Regions from separate parts of the Homo sapiens genome. Here region 1 is linked to region 2. A link means that fine-mapping ties the variant in region 2 to the plasma level of a protein whose gene starts in the linked region. Region 2 holds a variant in brackets. A gene starts in the other region. All regions are shown on their reverse strands.

Region 1 (9,088 bases), not on the chromosome of region 2:
ATGTTCTCAGGACCTTCCAAGGCTGTGTCATGGGTCGTGGTCCTCACATTTGGCTCAGAATAAATCTCTTCAAATATTTTACAGAGTTTGGCTTCTTTATCAACACTTTCCTCAGGCACTTTGGGGGCTGTGGAGGGAAATGCCCATTTCCCCCCTCCCCCCAGTTCTCTATGAGGTACAGCATGAGGCACCTGCTCTAGACCCATGCACCCTTCTCTGGAGAAGTAGACACATCCCACCCAATCAGCTCACCAGCCTCCTCACATGCTCACGCTGGCTCAGCCTGGCCACCCAAGCCCCCTTCCTTGAATTCTCCCTCCCTAGGGTGCTTTCAGCCCACTGTTCTGTGCTTTGGCTCAAGCTGTGCCCCTTCAGCCTGGCCCCACTCGTCTTTAAGGTCTCTGCTCTTTGTTATGTGGGGATTGGTGATGCTGTTTCAATTACAAACTATAATAGTACAATTTATGAAGTGCCAGGACACACATACATGCCAACTTTCAAGAAATAGTATTTATTAGTATTTCCTAAAATACAGTACTTAGTACAAAGTTTTCTATTTGATTCTACTCTTTTAAAAAAAAATACTGAGTTGATTTCATGACTGGCAAATGAGTCTTGATCTGCTGGTTAAAATGCCCTGGATCCGAGAGTCTGTGTCCCTTGTAGAGTGTGTGTCTGTGGGCTGTGCTGTCCACATCTCTCTGCCTGTGTCTCCTTTGTCTCTCACCCACTCCTCCTCCTCTTTTCATTTTGACAGCCTCAGTTTCTTTTCTTGGCCCTCTGTAGTCTTTTTCTGTGCTTTTTTTCCACTGAAAAATTCAATGTCTCACTACAATAAAGATAACTCTTCCAACTGATCTCTCTAGCACTGACTTTTGTCCTGAGCTCCATGTTTTCAGCTCTCTCACTATGACAGATGCCTTCCCTCATCTCAGAACTCCAAACTCTCCATGTCCAAAATTTAAAACAAGACTGCAGAATCAAGCAATCTTGAGCTTCAAAAACACCTTAGTCACTTATTATTTATTATTGGCAGAAGGGAATTATAATATCTACTCTTAGAGCTGTTTTAAAGATTGTATAAACTCCTAGTGTTGAGTTTGGTATACAGAAGGTGCTTAGTAAATCTTGGGTTCATTCCTACCTCCAGTTACTTTACCTTCCAAATTCCCCATTTCTTTTAGTGACACCGACATTATCCCACCAACGCTAGACTTAGATTTATTATTTCTTGACCCTGCCCCATTACTCTGCGTGTCTGCTCCACTCCCACACACTTGCTCTGAAATGCAGCCCACACGTGGCTCCCTGCAACCTGCAGCCTCATGTCACCTCCACTCCACAAAAGGCACTGAGGAAGCTGAGGGGTGGGGAATGCCCATCTCCCTTGGGGCCTCTGGCTCTCATGTTGGGATGACCACAGCCTCAGACAAGTTATCCAAGCCTGGCTTAGTGTTTCCCAAACTGGGACTCGCGGGCCTCCTGGGCTCCAGTTGGGGTCTGAAGACCGCGTTCTGCCTTGCCCTCGGTGTTCTGACGCACCTCCATGTGAACACCTCTCTTGGTACCTTCTCTCTTCCCCTTGGTCTCCTTCCTTGTGGCCAGATGGACATATGCCTGCTTTTTTCTCTGCTACCCTAGAGCCACAGTGATGGTTCACAGACTTGCCACAAGGATTGGTCCCCACTCAACTGGAGCCTGACGCCCTCACTGTCTCTGGTCGATCCCTTGCGCCTCCTCTGACCTCTTAGAGGAACTCGCTGTTCTGTGATAGCGGCCACAGCTCTGTTCCCCTTGGCATCCACCCCCGAGCATCCCCAGGCTGATTGACCAGTAAGAAGTCACCTTTCCTTTGCAGCCCCTGTCCAGTTCCCGCCTTTTCCCATCTCCCTGAAGCCTGCTCAGCTCTCCCCAGCTCATGGGGGTAGGACACGGCCTATAAGGTTGAGCTGGACTGTGTGAGGAAGAGGGTACAGGTGGCAGGCACGGGGTGGAAAGGGTGATGCAAGGAAGTCAAGGACTACCCAGAATCTGCCTCTAGTGGTCTTAGAACAGAGCCCAGGGTCTTCCCATGGCCAGGCCTCCCAGGCCTCACCACCTTCAACTCTGCCCTCATTCACCTCTCTCTGCCACACTGGGCTCTGCGCTGACCCTGGCTGAGCCCAACACTCACACCCCAGGACTTTTGCACCAGTCACCTCCCTGTCTGGAACATTCTTTCCACAGATACCCAAGTGGCTCAGGCCCAGCGCCCTCCGAGACACCCTCCCTGACCACGCCCTCTGACGTTGCCCCCACTCGTGTCTCTTTCATCCCCTTACACTGTGCTATTTGTCTTCTAGCACCCAACCCCTCTCTGACATTACATGCTGACAGGCTTATCCTTCCCTCCGCTGGAAAAAGACTTGACGTGTTTGGTCACAGCTGTATGCCCGTGCCTAGCACGGCCGGAACTTAACCAATATGTGTTGAGGGAATGAAGGAAAGATGGCGTGCCTGGCTCAGCCCTCTGGACTGAATCTGGGCGCTTCTGCTATCTGTTATGGCTGAGTCGCATCAACGCTTCAGTCAGACTGAGCAGGCCGGGTCTGGGCCACGTGGCCACACTTTCTGATGTGAGTAAAATGGGATTTTGGCAAAACGAAATTAAAACAAGGTTTTTAGGCACTTGTCTCAAGAAATTAATGGAACACTCTAGAACTCTGATATGGAGCATCCAGATTGGTAGACATTTGTCGTGTGGTTTGTTTCTTCAGAAGCTGTTGGGAGCATTGCAATCCTCGAGCACACAGTTGTGTTTGTTGTTTTGGCAACATCAGTGAATTCCACAGTCAGCAACTGCATTTGAGCAAGTTTTACCAGCAAGCAAAATTTTCAGTCAGTAAGGTCCAAACTCATGAAGAATGGGTTTAAACTTGTTGAATGTAAAGATTGAAACTGAAGCCACGTAGCTTTAATGATTGCCAGTACAACAGCAGTAGTTTAAAGGCTGGCACTGCAGGTGCTCTGCGTATTCTGATTTTATTAAAATAAAAAGTTGGATTGCAGAAAACACTCACAGGTGGCAGGACAGGGCTGAATAATGTCCCTCCAAATTCATGTCTTTCCCAGAACCTCAGAACCTGACCTTAATTGGAAATAGAACTTTTGTGATGTATTTAGTTAGGAAGACATTTTATGGGAGTAGAGTGAGCCCTAAATCCAATGACTGGTGTCCTTCTGAGAGAAAAGAAGACAGAAAAACAGCCATGGTGAGAACCCCATGCGATGATGGAGGCAGCGATGGGAGCAATGCTCCCACAAGCCATGGGCTGTGAGGCCGCTGGCACCCCGAGGCCAGGAAACAGGCCTAGAGCAGACTCTCTCCCAGCCTCTGGAGGAACCAGCCCCGCTGACGCCTTGATTTTGAACTTCCAGCCTCCAGAGCTGTGGGAGAAATGTTTCTGTTGCTTTAAGCTACTTGGTCCATTGTCCTTTCTTGTAGCAGTACCAGCAAAGGAATGCTGAGGTCCCACCGCCCCAGAAGAACTTCCGTGACTGCCAGGACAGCTGTGCTCGTTTAAAGGCTAGACTGCAGATGCTGTGCGCATTCTGATTTTATTAAAATCAAAAGTGTGCACAGCAGGGTCCTGAGTGGGACCTTCTGGGACCTGTGTTCAGCCCCACCCACCCCACAGTGCAGCTGCCGAGGCCTCTGAGGCAGAGTAGGGGAGAGAGATGGCCTGGCCCTGGCTCTCCGGGGCTGGCCATGTCCACCCAGGGTCCAGGCCGGCCCCCGGGGACACCACAGGCCATGGTTATGAGCCAGGCCCGCATCACACAGCTAAGGGTGCCAATACCCTGTGGACCCAGAGGTCCGCGAGGTGGGCGCCTGCATTTCCCATTGGCAGGAAGGGAAGCTGGCGCTCCACCAGGACTCTGCATAACTCCCCTAGTTTCCTCCTGTGGGTCTGGGTGGGCTCCTGGCCTGTCTTCTCATCCCCACCCTCTGCTTCTTCCCAGGAAGAGGAGTCCTGCCAACTTCCATTCCCAATAAGCCAGAGCAGCTTCCAGAGTCCCGGGCCGGGCTTAGGGCCTCGGGAGCCCCGGGCCGGGCTTAGGGCCTCAGGATCCTAGAGCATTCCGGCTGCAGAATTTTCTACCAATTCGCGGAAGCATCTGTCTGTTTGCAGAGTAGCTTTGCTGTCGATGATGATGGCATGGGTCCTTCCAGGGCCTTGTTCCACCCACGCTGATCTCATCCCACCACAAGCATCACAGTGGGCTCCTGCAGGGGGCAGTGTGGCCTGAGGGGGAGGAAGAAGGCTGGGCGAGTTGGAGCCACACAGTACCCCATGAAGACGGGAGTCCCGTTCCGCGTGGGAGACAGGAAGATGTGGCTCAGGGGACAGAGGCTGGGGAGGGCAGGGGGTTGAGGGTGGGATGGAGAAGACCCCCGTGTGATGTGACTGGAGCTCCAAGTCACCAGGCGGAGGGGCCGTTTAGGTCAGTGATGCACTGAGGATCCACTCAGCCTTCCCAGGGGTCTCCCCTTTCCACCCCACGAGGGTCTCCCCCTGCTCCGTCTCTCCCTCACACATTCCCTTCCCAGGCCTGGGTCCCCTTGGTGCCCCTGCCTGTCCACTTTGTCCAGGATGCAAACAAGTCTAGGGTCCCTGTCTCTCGTGTCCCCACCAGAGGGGCCTCCTCTTCCTCCGCTGTCCCCAGGCTTGCCTGGCTTCTGTCCTGTCTGGGCCTCTGCTTTTGGACAGACCCGGGGGTCCTGGACAGCCCTGCTGCCCCCACCTGTCCAGCTGTGCATTAGGCAGCTCCTTCCCCGACGGAGCCAGTCCGAGAGTGGTGGCACTGGCTCGGCTCAGCCTCCTCCTCCCTGGGAGCTCCTCTGCTGTGCCCCTCGTCCTGTGCCTCCCTGTGGTGGCAGATGGCTAACTGTCCTGTCTCTGCCTGCCCCAACCCCTCCCTCTCTCTCTGTCTCCGTCTTTCTACCTCTGTCTCTGCCTCTTGGCCTCCCATCTCACTGTGTCTCCGTTTCTCCTTCCCTCTCCCTTTCTCTCTCTGACTCTGTCCTTGTGTTTTTGTCTCTGTGACCTCTGATCCGCCCGTCTGACTCTCAGCCCCAGGGAGCCACAGCTGGCCTTGAGGATGCCGTTGGCTGGAAAGGCCAAGCCCAGCCATCCGAGCCCAGCCTCTGGCAGCACTCAAGGCACCCACCGTCCAGGCTGCAGAGATGAGAGGGTTTCCCCAACTGCCGCCCCTCCCTGCTCCCTGGCGCTGCTTTTGGGTCTGAAGGGCGAGGGGCACTTACGACTTTCCCCGAGCAGCAGGAGGCCAGCCAGGGAGGCACTGAGCAGGACGAGGTGCAGTGGGCGCCCCATGGTGTGGCCGAGTACTGTGTCCCTGTCCTCACTGGGACAGGCTGCTGGAGCAAAGTCCACGCCCCAGCTGGGATGGCTGTTGTCTGGCTGCTTATCACTTGGCTTAGGCCTCCTGATTGGAGCCGAGACCTGCTGGCGAGGCAGGGGAGTGACCACGCTGGGAACACATCCACTCTGGCCCCACCTTCCCCAGGCAGAGCTGGGCGGCCAGAGAGGCCCCGCAGAACCTCATCCTCATCAGTCACCAGGGCCGCGGGTGTGGGGACTTTCTGTTCTAAGAATAAAAACATCATTTCGTGCTCATTTTGTAGTTTCCAGATGTTTACATTTAACTCTCAGTCCTCACATACAAATATCATTTTCCCCATCATTTTTCCAGAAGAGAAAACTAAGTTTAGAGAGCGCAGAAGCCTGAGCCGAGGCCGCTGGCAGTGAGCGTGGGATCTGAGCCCAGGACTTCTGCCCCAAGGCCCTGCTTGTTTCTGGGCGGGCCCTTCCGCTCACAGCCACTCTCTGGGTGGTATCAGGTGGTCTCATGTCACGGGGGGGGCTTGGCATCTGCACCATGGCCTCCCACAGGCCAGGCTGGCACCTGCCCCACCCACCCCCAAACCTTCTGTGCCCGCATGGCCCCAAAACGTACTTCTGTGGGGAGTGACCTTCCCGTGACCATCTGGAGGGACAGGCTGTGTCTGAAGCCCCTCCTGACCTGCCCACCACTGGCCACACTGTTCCGAGGCTGAGAGGGCTTCTGGGCTCGTTCTCCAGTGCAGAAACCTCCCATCACAAGGTCCTGAGTGTCTCTGCTCAATGGCTGTGGGAGTCACTGGGAGGTGCAGCCGGGCTTTTTGCCTCTGGGGTCTCTGGAATAAATGGTCTAAAGCTTGGCCAGTGTGGCGATCACTGCCTGCTATGCCGTAGTGGCCGGGGAGCAATGCCCCTAACACCCACAGCACTGGCCACTGCCTCATGGTGCATCTGCCTTGATGGGTCGCCCTGTCTCGCAGCCACCTGCACATGAGCCTGGTGTGCACACATTGTGCGTCATTGTGCCTGGCACACAGGAGGCACTCACTGAGCCCCACCCGACTGCACAAACTGATGATGCTGGATGCCAACGCCAGGCTGGCCTCCCACGGCGGGCACCACGCACAGCCTGGTCCTCTGAGAAGGGCCTTCCTGGTGGCACCAGATGTCTGACTCCTGCCTCTCCTGGTCTCCACCCTCTGACATCGCCTCTAGGCATGTTTGTATGGAGAGACCAATGCGGTGTGTGCACCAACAGCAGGATGCTCATGGCAGACACGCAGTCTTTGTCATCAATGCTGGGTGGCGATGCTGGCTTTGGTGGCCCAAGCCTGCCGCCTCATCCCACCCTGTCCCAGGCCCATGGCCAGTGGCCTCCCCGTATTCTATCTCGCCACTCACAGAAAGCTGGAGCTGAGCCGTGGCAGGTGGCACGTCCCATATGAAACATGTAGCCTTTGGGGGCGCCCAGGCCCTTCAGCGAAGCCTCTGGGGAGTCCCGGGCCCCCTCCTCCGGCAGCACCATGAGGTGGGCGCCTGCATTTCCCATTGGCAGGAAGGGAGGCTGGCGCTCCACCAGGACCCCGCATGACTCCCCTAGTTTCCTCCTGTGGGTCTGGGTGGGCTCCTGAACTGTCCTCTCATCCCCACCCTCCGCTTCTTCCCAGGAAGAGTCCTGCCAACTTCCACTCCCAAGAAGTCAGAGTGGCTTCCAGAACCCTGGGCTGGGCTTAGGCCCTCAGGAGCCCCGGGCATTCTGGTTGCAGAATTTTCTACCAATTCACTGAAGCATCTGTCTGCAGAGTGGCTTTGCTGTCGATGACCATGGCATGGGCCCTTCCAGGGCCTTGTTCCATCCATGCTGATCTCATCCCACCATAAGCATCACGGTGGGCTCCTGTTTTACACATGAGGAAACTGAGGCATGGTCACTCGGACAAAAGAGAAAGCAGAGCCAGCTCTGACCTGGATCAGGGCCCGCCACTGGCTCCCGTCCCGTTTAGGGGGCATTAGGAACCGGGGTCTGGCCAGGGTCAGCAAGCATCTTCAGCAGAGGTCCTGACACTAACCATGCTGGGCTTGGCGGGTCAGCTGGTCTGTCCGGCTGGACGTCTCTGCCACGGCCACTCCATGGACACTAATATGGGTGTGTTCCCATAAAACTTTATTTACAAGAGCAGGGTGCCTTGGAAGCAGCCCACGGCTGTAGTTCATAGACCCTGTCTGCTCTGAAGTAGATGATGCCTGAGTGCCCCCGAGGTGGGTTGCTGGTGCCTGCCTTGCTGCTGTGAGTGCCAATGGTGCCCACCTTGCTGCTGTGAGTGCCAGTGGTGCCCAGGACGGCCCTGCAGGGATGGCATCGAGTCCACTCTCTGAGCCGTGCTTGCCGGAGTCTGAGTGGGGGCACTGTTTGTCACCTCCCCATTTCTCTGTTCATGTGTTTCTCATTCTTCTTCCACCACCCTGGGGACTCAGCAAGAGTGCAGCTTGCCAGGTCCTCCCACTGCAGCCAGGGCCTGGGAACTTGCATTTAGTGATGCGTGTGTCCCTGACTCTTGAGCAGGTGCTCCCAGGGTCTCTGTGAAATATCATTGACAAGGGCTGTGGCAGGGAGAGAACATCCAATTCCACAGGATCCTGGGAGCTACAGCCTCAAACATCTATCAAACAGCTTTTGTTTTTAAAAAATAGCTTCCATGTGAGGGTTCATTTCAGTGATGTTGAAAATTGTGAAAGAAAAGAGCATCTCAGAGGATGAGCACCGGGGGCTCCAAAAATGAATCATGGGCAACCCAGTGGGTGGCAGGCACCACAGGTGTGCGGAGGAGACGCAGCCGTTTATTGTGAAGCTGGGAAGCAGGTGGGGAATAGTCTGTGCAGCCCGGCACCCAGCGAAGGGAGAAATACATTTGGGGGAGAGTTTGGGGGCATTCGCCACCATGCATGGTGATGCTTCTGAATTGTCTGAAGTGAAGATGATAATGGATAAGAACCAGAAAAGTGAGAGCTAAACAACCGCCTTCAGAGGACAGCACACATGGAGTCAGCATCGGTGTGTGTGCATCTGTGTGTGCATCTGTGTGTGTACATCGGTGTGTGTGCGCATTGGTGTGTGTGTGCTCATCCATGTGTGTGCATATCTGTGTGTGCGCACATCGGTGTGTGCATATCTCTGTGCATCCGTGTGCACTGATGTGTGCGTGCATTGGCATGTGCGTGCATCCATGTGTATATCTGTGTGTGCATCTGTGTGTGCATATCTCTATGTGCGTGTGCATCGGTGTGTTTGCGTATCTCTGTGTGACCATCTGTGTGTGCATCCGTGTGTGTGCATATCTCTGTGTGTGTGCATTGGCGTGTGTGTGTGTGCATCCATGTGTGTTCATGCCTCTACTGTCTCCAGCAATGAAGGCAGAGCAGCAGCCTGAGGCCAGCAGATCACGTGCAGGTGGGCTTGGCTGAAGGGAGGTAAGGAGGCTCAGCTGGGCTGTCTGCCTCCAGGACAACCTTGGCACTCCCCTGCCCCTCTGTCCAGCGCCTGTCTGCCTCTGCCTCTCATCTTTTCTATTCCATCTCTGTGTCTCTATTAGTCTCTTTGAATCTTGGAGTCTCTTTGAGTCTCTCTCCATGTCCTCAGAGTCTCTCCCTCAGTCTCTCTCTGTCTCTGTCTCTCTCTGTTTCTGTCT
Region 2 (9,112 bases):
CCTCTGCCACCCAGGCTCAAGAGATCCTCCCAGCTCAGCCTCCCGAGTAGCTAGGACCACAGGTGCGTGCCACCACACCTGGCTAACTTTTTGTACTTTTGTAGAGATGGGGGTCTCATCATGTTGCCCAGGTTGGTCTCGAACTCCTGAGCTTAAGCAATCTGCCCACCTCGGCCTCCCAGAGTACTGGGATTACAGGCATGAGCCACGGCGCCTGGCCCGCTTACTATATTCTAACCTACTTAGTCATGTCCTTTATGTCTACAGCACTTTTTTTTTTTTTTCAGGCTCTTCAAGTTGGAGTGCAGTGGTATGAATCATAGCTCAACTGCAGCCTCAAACTCCTGGGCTCAAGCAATCCTCCCACCTCAGCCTCTGGAGTAGCTAGGACTACAGGCATGCACCACCACACTTGGCTAATTAAATTTAAAAAACAAAAAATTGTAGAGACAGAGTCTCACTATGTTGCCCAGACTGGTCTTGAACTTCTGGCCTCAAGTGATCCTCCTGCCTCAGCCTCCCAAAGTGCTGGATTATAGGCGTGAGCCACCACTCCCAGCCTATCTAACAGCATTTCATATTGTGATTTTTCCTCTGATGATAAGTGTCAGAGAGCAGCCAATTTCCCTTTTAAAATTACCTTAGTATCCAAGGGAAAGGAAACCACGTGCTATGCACAAAGTCTTACATATTAATGTTCATAACAGCATTGCTCAAAATAGCCAAAATTAGAAATAATCCAAGGGTGGGGCACCACGGCTCACGCCTGTAATCCCAGCACTTTGGGAGGCCGAGGTGGGCGGATCACAAGGTCAAGAGATCGAGACAAGCCTGGCCAACATGGAGAAACTCCGTCTCTACTAAAAATACAAAAATTAGCTGAGTGTGGTGGCATGCGCCTGTAGTACCAGCTACTCAGGAGGCTGAGGCAGGAGAATCGCTCAAACCTGGGAGGTGGAGCTTGCAGTTAGCCGAGATCGTGCCACTGCACTCCAGCCTGGTGACAGAGCAAGACTGTCTAAAAAACAAAAACAAAAGCAAAAACAAAAACCAAAAAAAAAGAAAGAAACAATCCAAATGCCCATCAACAGGAAAATGGTAAATAAAAATGTGGCATTTTCTTACAAAGGAATATTACTTAACAATAAAAATAGTTAAACTATTGATACATATAACACCATGGATGAATCTCAAAAACACTATGCTGAACAAAAGAAGCCAGATACAAAGGAGCTTATATACTGTACGGTTCTGTTCTAGAACAGCTCAAACAAATCTATAATTTTAGAAATCAGATCAGTGGTTGCCAAGGGCAAAAGAGGGCAATTTGACTGCAAAAGCATATGAGAGAACACTGAAGTGGATGACAACGATCCAGGTTGTCATCGTGGTGGCCATTATACACACACACGTATAGTTGTAAAAACTAATTGAACAGTAAACCTAAAATGTGTGCATTTTCTTTTATTTATTCAACCTCAAGAAAGCCGATGATTTAAAAACCCTCCTCCCAAACATGACAAATCCAAAAGCACTAAGGATTTTGAATGTCAGTTTGGCAGTGTACAAGTGAGTCTCCTTATCCCCATCCTTGTCAGAACAGAAATGACCCTTTTTTTTTCCTTTCTTTTTTGTGTTTTTGCCAGCTTGGTTTGTTTCTTGAATTTGCATTGCTCTAATTTGAGGCTTGAAACAATGATTGGAGTTATCAAGAGGGAAGAGCGCAGGTGAGAGAGTGGGTGTATCAGGGAGCTGGAAAGTCTGTGCAGCTGGAGCACATGATAAGTGGGAGTGGCCAGACTTTATGTTGAAGAGGTTGGCAGGAGATGGAGCCTGCAGGGCATGGAAGCCAGGCTGAGGGGTTCGCTAGACTTAGGAGGTGTAGGAGAGAAATGGAAAGATTTCAAAGGGGTTGGAAAGGCATAACCAGATTGGTTCTTCAGAAAGATCGCTCTGTCTGAATGGGAAGAATGGGGAGGGCTAGGGAAGGAGATTAAACCTGAGAAACCAGCTGGAGCTGATGCAGTGGTCCAGGGGTGAGATGATGGGGACAGACTCCAGATACCATTCATCTATCTAACATCTATCTATCTATCATCTATCTACCTATCTATCTATCTATCTATCTATCTATCATCTATCTACCTACCTATCATCTATCATCTATCTCTATCTATCTATCTATCTATCTATCTATCTAATCTATCTATCATCTATCTATCATCTATCTATCTATCTATCTATCTATCTATCTATCTATCATCTATCTATCTATCTATCTGAGACAAGGTTTCACTCTGTCGCCCAGGCTGGAGTGCAGTGGCACGATCTCAGTTCACTGCAGCCTCCGCCTCCCGAGTTCCAGCAATTCTCCTATCCAGCCTCCCTAGTAGCTGGGATTACAGGTGTCACTACCACACCTGGCTAATTTCTTTTGTATTTTTGGTACGGACAGGGTTTCGCCATGTTGGCCAGGCTGATCTTGAACTCCTGACCTCAAGTGATCCACCCGCCTCGGCCTTCCAAAGTGCTGGGATTTCAGGTGTAAGCCACCGTGCCCAGCCCAGATACCATGTATTTTGAGGAGAAGCTGAGCATTGTTGGGGACAGCACCACCATTAGACCTGGACTATTGGGGCCCAGGGATTTAGAGAGCCCCACATATCACACCCACCCACACACCCACCCACACACAACAGTTTATTAAATAACAGATAAGCACCTCTGTCCTTTGGGATCTGGTGCCTGGTACTGGCACAGTGGGACCCACATCACTGATTATTCTCTTTCACAACCAACACTGTTTAGGCCCCAGGAAACAATCTCTACATGTGGCACTCGACTCTGAAAACAACAGGTCAAATGTCCTGATACTTCGTGGATGATGCCACCGCAGACATAGGAGACAGACACTGCTTCAAGAGAGGATTTGAGTGAACTTGGAGGTAAGAAAAAAGACAAATTAACATTTTAACTCTTCCCTTTCAGCATAAATGCCAACAAAAAAACTCTTTGTTTTGCCAGAAACACTGAAAGTCTATTTTCTTGCAATGTGTGGTTAGAGAGATCCTCCTGAGTTAGAAATAAACAGTACATGCAACAGTTGCACATGGTTGCTGAGAAACATTTGGCAATATTGCATCATTATTACTCCTAAATGTGTGTGTCTGATGTCTGTAGATGGTGCCCACATACAGCCTGAATCTAGTTCTTTTTCTCTTTATTTTCTTGAGACAGAGTCTGGCTCTGTCACCCAGGTTGGAGTGCAGTGGCACAATCTTGGCTTACTGCAACCTCCATCTCCCAGGTTCAAGAAATTCTCCGGCCTCAGCCTCCTGAATAACTGGGATTACAGGCGCCTGCCACCACACCTGGCTAATTTTTGTATTTTTAGTACAGACGGGGTTTCATCATGTTGGCCAGGCTCGTCTCAAACTCCTGACCTCAAATGATCTGCCTGCCTCGACCTCCCAAAGTGCTGGGATTACAGTTGTGAGTCACTGCATCAGGACAATTGAATCTGGTTCTTGACATGGGCATGTAGAGGCTGCATGCTAGCCTCGTGAATAATTTTCAGTTGTACAAATCTTTTGGACATGATTTAATTAATTAATTAAATTTCTTTTTTTTTTTTTTTCGAGACAGAGTCTCGCTCTGTTGCCCAGGCTGGAGTGCAGTGGCACAATCTCAGCTCACTGCAAGCTCCACCTCCTGGGTTCACGCCATTCTCCTGCCTCAGCCTCCTGAGTAGCTGGGAATACAGGCGCCCGCCACCATGCCCGGCTAATATTTTTTTGTATTTTTTTAGTAGAGACAGGGTTTCACCGGGTTAGCCAGGATGGTCTCGATCTCCTGACCTTGTGATCCACCCGCCTCAGCCTCCCAAAGTGCTGGGATAATTAATTAAATTTCTAAAACTTAAATGTAAACATGTCAGCTTCATTTAAAATACTTTTGATTTATAACGTTCAGGCACTTAGGCCAATGGGGTCTGGGGTCTCCGTCTGCTCGAGTGTAGAGATCCCAGGCGCAGCCTGTGTAGGGGAAGGGTGAATAAGGAGAGCTACCACCATTCAAAGCGGAGCTGTGCACTGTGAATGCAGTACAGAGGCGCTTCCGAGTGCCTCTCCT[T/C]GGCAGGAGTAAGTGGTCTTCAGTGTCCTCACTGTCCCTCAGGCTGCCGCTTGGGGGTCTCACTCTCCACCTTAGACTATCCAAGTAATTCCTCCAAGCTCATCTGGCACCTACCCTACCACAGTACAATTTTCTCTGTCTCCTAACATTTCAGGTATGCATGAATGCCTCTAAAGACTGAGGCTTTAAGTAGTCCTTCTAGCTCGTCTGGCCCTATCCTCCATCTGGCCCTGGCAGGATGTCAAAAGAAGTTAGGCAGGAACAAAAGAGAGAGAAAAGGCCTCAGGGCAGGCAGTACAGGCTGGTGGTGAAGCGCAAGTTGGTGAACTTCTCTGTGCCTCAGTATCTCTACCTGTAAAATGAGAATAATAGTGGTACCTACTTCATTGGGTTGTTATGAAGATTAAATTGGTACATAGTTGTAATGCTTGGTTTTTTAAAGTTCTTAAAATTTTTTGGTAGGGATGGGAGGTCTCACTATGTTGCCCAGGCTGGTCTCGAACTCCCGGGCTCAAGTGATCCTCCCACTTCAGCCTCCCAAAGTGCTGGGTTTACAGGCATGAGCTACCACACCCATAAAATGCTTGTTAAATAAAATAAATTTGCTCCTAAGGGTCTTCTGATTATAATAACTATCGCTGTCAGTTTAACCATCCCCCAGACAAGCTGGGGTGAGGAGGGAAGAAAAATTTCTGCATTGCATATGTACTTCAGTGATTGCAAGCTACATCTCTCTTTTAAAGATATCAAAACATGAAAACGTGTCTATCCTAGGCTCAAGAAAATAAGACATTCCCCCCATTATATAGATGAGGAAAAAAGTGGCCCAGAGAGGCGAGGCAGTGTGGGAAACGTCACACAGCAGGTGAGCTGGAAGTCATCAGGGAAATGCACCTGTTTGAAACACTTCATTTCCTGAAAAAGTCACATTCCACCCTTCTTCATCAAGGCCAGAGCCAAGGTCTGTGTAAGACCAACCTGTGACCTGCTTCCACATGAGAATACATAGGCTGAGCAAATTGTCCTCATGGGGAACTCTGTGACTGGGCTGAGGAAAGACCCAAAAAGATTTTCTCAAGTTCAAATCCTGTTTTGTGATCTTGGGCAACTTAAGAAACCTCTTTGAACTTCAGTTTCCTCATCTGAAAAGCCAGGGTTACAACATGTGTCCCACGAGATTGTGTATGAGATGAAAATGTGGGATCACATGCACATGCGCATGAGATCGCACCGAGCATGCCACCTGGTGTGCCGTCCATGCACAAGAAATTGTAGCCATTATTCTTCTGAATGGTGCTATTCTTGGGTTGAACCATATGAAACTGGGTTTTGCAGGTCCAAAAGCATTGGATATTATTCTATTTCATACCGTTCACTCTACTATTATTGAACAATAGTCCTTTCTGTGGCTGGCAAGAAAGGCAGAGCATATCGGCCCCATTTTGCAGAGAGAGAAACTGAGGCCTAGAGAGAAAGAATGACCTACCCAGGGCCATGTCCCAGTCAGGAACTGGAATCTGCCTGCCAGCCTCTCTTTTTCTCGCTCTTCTTTTCCTCATTTTTCCAATCCTGGGCTGCCGGCCATTATGGGTTGTGACCATAGCTAGGGTTTGATTCATTGTGAACAGGGCAAACAGGCTGGCCTGGGCTTTCCCCTGGAGTTGGCCCAGCCTGGGAAGTCCACCTGACTGTTTCCTGACACTCAGTTGTGCAACAGGAGATTGGGAACTGTGGGTACTGCCAGTTTAGGAAAAGTTTCCTTCTGTCCCCAACAACCTCCTATCTGCCCCTGCTGGGAATGAGCTGGCCCAGCTCCAGCATCCTCACTGGCCCACCTGGGATTGGAGACCAGGCCGAGAGTCGTGAGTGTCACAGTTCTAACATGGCTCTTCTTGCTTTCCCCCTCTGGCCCTTCTGGCTGGCTTTTTCAATCTCTACCCATGTCTTCCAGGCCTAGCAGAAACTGCTGATGCCTCCAGAGCTCTGAGTGCAGTGCAGACCTCTCTCCTTTCCTCGCAGCGCAGGCAGCTGCCTCCTGGATGGCTCTGCTCCAGGGCCCCATGGCAGTCAAACCCAACTTGCCAACTCAGACCTCTGCTCATCTGTGCAAACCTGTGACTTGTCATGTTCCCAGCTCCATACCGCAGGCTTCCTCACCCTTTCCTGCAGCCCCACATGGGAACACTTACCGTTCCCAAATGCAAAGTGCTACCTTTACCTCTGGGCCTTGGCAGGCACTGTTCCCTCTACCCCAAGTGCCCTTCCCCATCTGGCTCACTTCTATTCCTTCTCTTTCAACCTCAGCTTGAGGAGTGTGATGGTTAATTTTATGTATCACCTTGACTGGGCCACAGGGTGCCCAGATATTTGGCCAAACACTATTCTGGGTGTGTCTGTGAAGGTGTTTTTGGATGGGATTAACATTTGGGTAATCCCATGGGAGACTGAGTAAAGCAGATGGCCCTCCCCAATGTGGCTGGGCTTCATCCAATCAGTTGAAGGCCTGAATAGAACAAACAGGCTGAGTACGAGCGAATTCCTTCTGCCTGACTGCCTTCAAGCTGGGACAGGTTTTTTCCCTGCCTTTGGACTTGAACTGAACCGTTGGGTTTTCCTGGGTCTCAAAGCTGCCAGCAGCCAATCTTAAGATTTGTCAGCTTCCATCATTGCATGAGCCAATTTCATATAATAAATCCCTTAATATGGAGTGCAGTGGCGCCATCTCAGCTCACTGCAAGCTCCGCCTCCCAGGTTCACACCATTCTCCTGCCTCAGCCTCCTGGGTAGCTGGGACTACAGGCACCCGCCACCACACCCAGCTAATTTTTTTTCTATTTTTAGTAGAGGCGGGGTTTCACTGTGTTAGCCAGGATGGTCTCGATCTCCTGACCTCGTGATCCGCCCACCTCGGCCTCCCAAAGTGCTGGGATTACAGGCGTGAGCCACCGCGCCCGGCTGCAAGTTTTTAAAATATAAAATCCTGGGTATAAACTCAACTGTTAGTGATGTGCTCTTTCTCCTCAATGAGAATGGCAGAAAAGTTCTGATTATTCATTGTCCCAGGGAAGGAGGAATAAGCTGAGGAAGAAAGAGATCTGAAACAAGGGTCAGGAAATGTGGGCTCCAGGCCAGGATACTCAGATACGTATAAATTTCAGATAAATAACAAATAAAAAGATTTCTAGCATAAGCATTTCCTCAAAATTGCATGGAGCATACTTGTACTAAAAAATAGCTATTGTTTATCTGAAATTCAAATTGATCTGGGCATCCTATAGTTTTATTTTTTAAGTCTGGCAACGCCATCTCCCAGACTCACACCCACTCACTTCTTCCGTGGCAGGTACTATTGTGACTTCTCTCAAGAATGTGACAGGCAGGGATCACTCCTTTTGAAGCATTATTCACAATAGCCAAAGGTAGAAACAGCCCAAATGTCCACCAGTTTGGCTCAAATATCCATCAGCTTATGAGTAGGTAAACAAAATGTGGTTTATCCATGCAATGGAGTACATTCAACCATAAAAAGAATGAAGTACTGATACACGTTACGACACAGATGAATCTTGAAAACATCACGCTGAGTGAAAGAGGCCGGGGTCACAAAAGGCCACATACTGTATGATTCCACTTGTATTAGGTCGGTGCCAAAGTAATTGCGGTTTTTGCCATTTAGAAGTAATGACAAAAACCGCAATTACTTTGGCACCAATGTAATATAAAATGTCTGGAGTAGGCAGAGCCGTGGACACAGAAAGCAGGCTGGTGATTTTCCAGGGGTTGGGGGAGGGTGGGACTGCTAAAATGGGTACAGGTTTCCTTTAGGGGTGATGAAAATAATACGAAATTAGATCATGGTAACGTTGCACACCATTCTGAATGTACTATCACCAGTGGCAAATTTTATGTTATGTGTAATTAACCACAATAATAATAAAAACAAATTGCTCATGTTAACCTCAGTGTACCTCCTCCCTGTGTGTTAGGAGTTGAATCGTGTCCCCCCAAAAGATATGTCCTAACCCCCTGCACCAGTGAATGTGACCTCATTTGGAGATAAGGCCTTTGCAGATGAAAGTAAGTTAAGGTGGGGTCATGAGTGTGGGCTCTAATCCAATATGACTGGGGTCCTCATAAAGAGAAGATGGAGCAGAGAGACACATCAGAACACGTGTCACCACAGGGACACAGACCGAAGTGCTGCAGCTGCAAGCCAAGGAATGACTGGGGCTACCAGGAGCGGGAAGAGGCAAGGAAAGATCCTCCCCTTGAGGCTTTGGAGGGAGTGTGGCCCTGCCAACACTGCCTGTGTGAACTTCTGGCCTCCAGAACTGCGAGAGAGACGGTTCTGTGTTGTTTGCAGCCACCAAGTTTGTGGTATTTGTTACAGCGTAAGGAGGACATCCTCTGAGCATCTCCTCCCACTCCCTATCCCAGCCCAGCCAGAAACTGCCCCCCTGAGCTTTGAGAAGCAGCACGGGACCACAGGCGTGTCATTCCATTGCCTCAGTTTTAAATATTTATTTAAAATCCAGAGGGGAAAAGGAGAAACGGAACCCATTGGGGTTTTAATACACTGACATGTGGACAGAGACGTAAACGAAGACAGCAGGAAAACCCAAGAATGAGACAGAGGCCAGTGGATTCTGGCAGCAGGAGGGATCCGAGCGCTGAGATGAGGCCCGAGCTGCTACAAACACGCACTTCCACGCAGAGCGTCCAGGCTGGGGCGGCAGGGCGAGGATACAGAAGTGTTGGGAGGGGGGACGGGCCAAAGTGAGGTATTAAATAATAAAAATCAAATCCAATTCCCAAAGAGACACAACTTTAGGAGAGAAATACACAAATAGAGACTTTCACATACATTTTCCCCTTCTATAAAAATAATTCCATGGTTAAAATAACCTCAAAATCCAATTCAAGCGCCGACTTGTTCGCTGATGTAGCACAATTCAGAGGACGCTGAACGTCACTATGGTGT

Direction of the effects. Alleles are on the strand shown, and positions count from the first base shown. The strength of an association depends on the size of the effect and on how common the allele is.
For the plasma level of the protein whose gene starts at base 5,432 in region 1, allele T in region 2 goes with a higher level than allele C (weak association).

Evidence for each region. PIP is the chance, under the fine-mapping model, that this variant and not a neighbour inherited with it causes the effect. The UK Biobank Pharma Proteomics Project read protein levels with antibody pairs (Olink). The fine-mapping took linkage between variants from a reference panel, not from the people measured, so its PIPs are less certain.
Region 1: F10 starts here. The variant in region 2 is fine-mapped to the plasma level of the F10 protein (UK Biobank, PIP above 0.99).

The regions. Positions count from the first base shown.
Region 1 is chr13:113,119,143-113,128,230 of GRCh38, reverse strand. F10 (coagulation factor X) reads right to left here and starts at 5,432. Exons shown (of 8, transcript NM_000504.4): 1 at 5,306-5,432. The coding sequence starts at 5,375. F7 (coagulation factor VII) reads right to left here. Exons shown (of 8, transcript NM_019616.4): 8 at 7,546-9,088. It overlaps F10-AS1 (F10 antisense RNA 1), which reads left to right. Exons shown (of 3, transcript NR_126424.1): 3 at 1-76.
Region 2 is chr9:114,312,027-114,321,138 of GRCh38, reverse strand. It overlaps LOC105376224 (a long non-coding RNA gene), which reads left to right and starts at 2,696. Exons shown (of 3, transcript XR_930255.3): 1 at 2,696-2,945. COL27A1 (collagen type XXVII alpha 1 chain) reads right to left here. Exons shown (of 61, transcript NM_032888.4): 61 at 8,628-9,112. RefSeq lists an enhancer at 2,976-3,270. The variant T/C (reference allele first, on the strand shown) is at 4,132.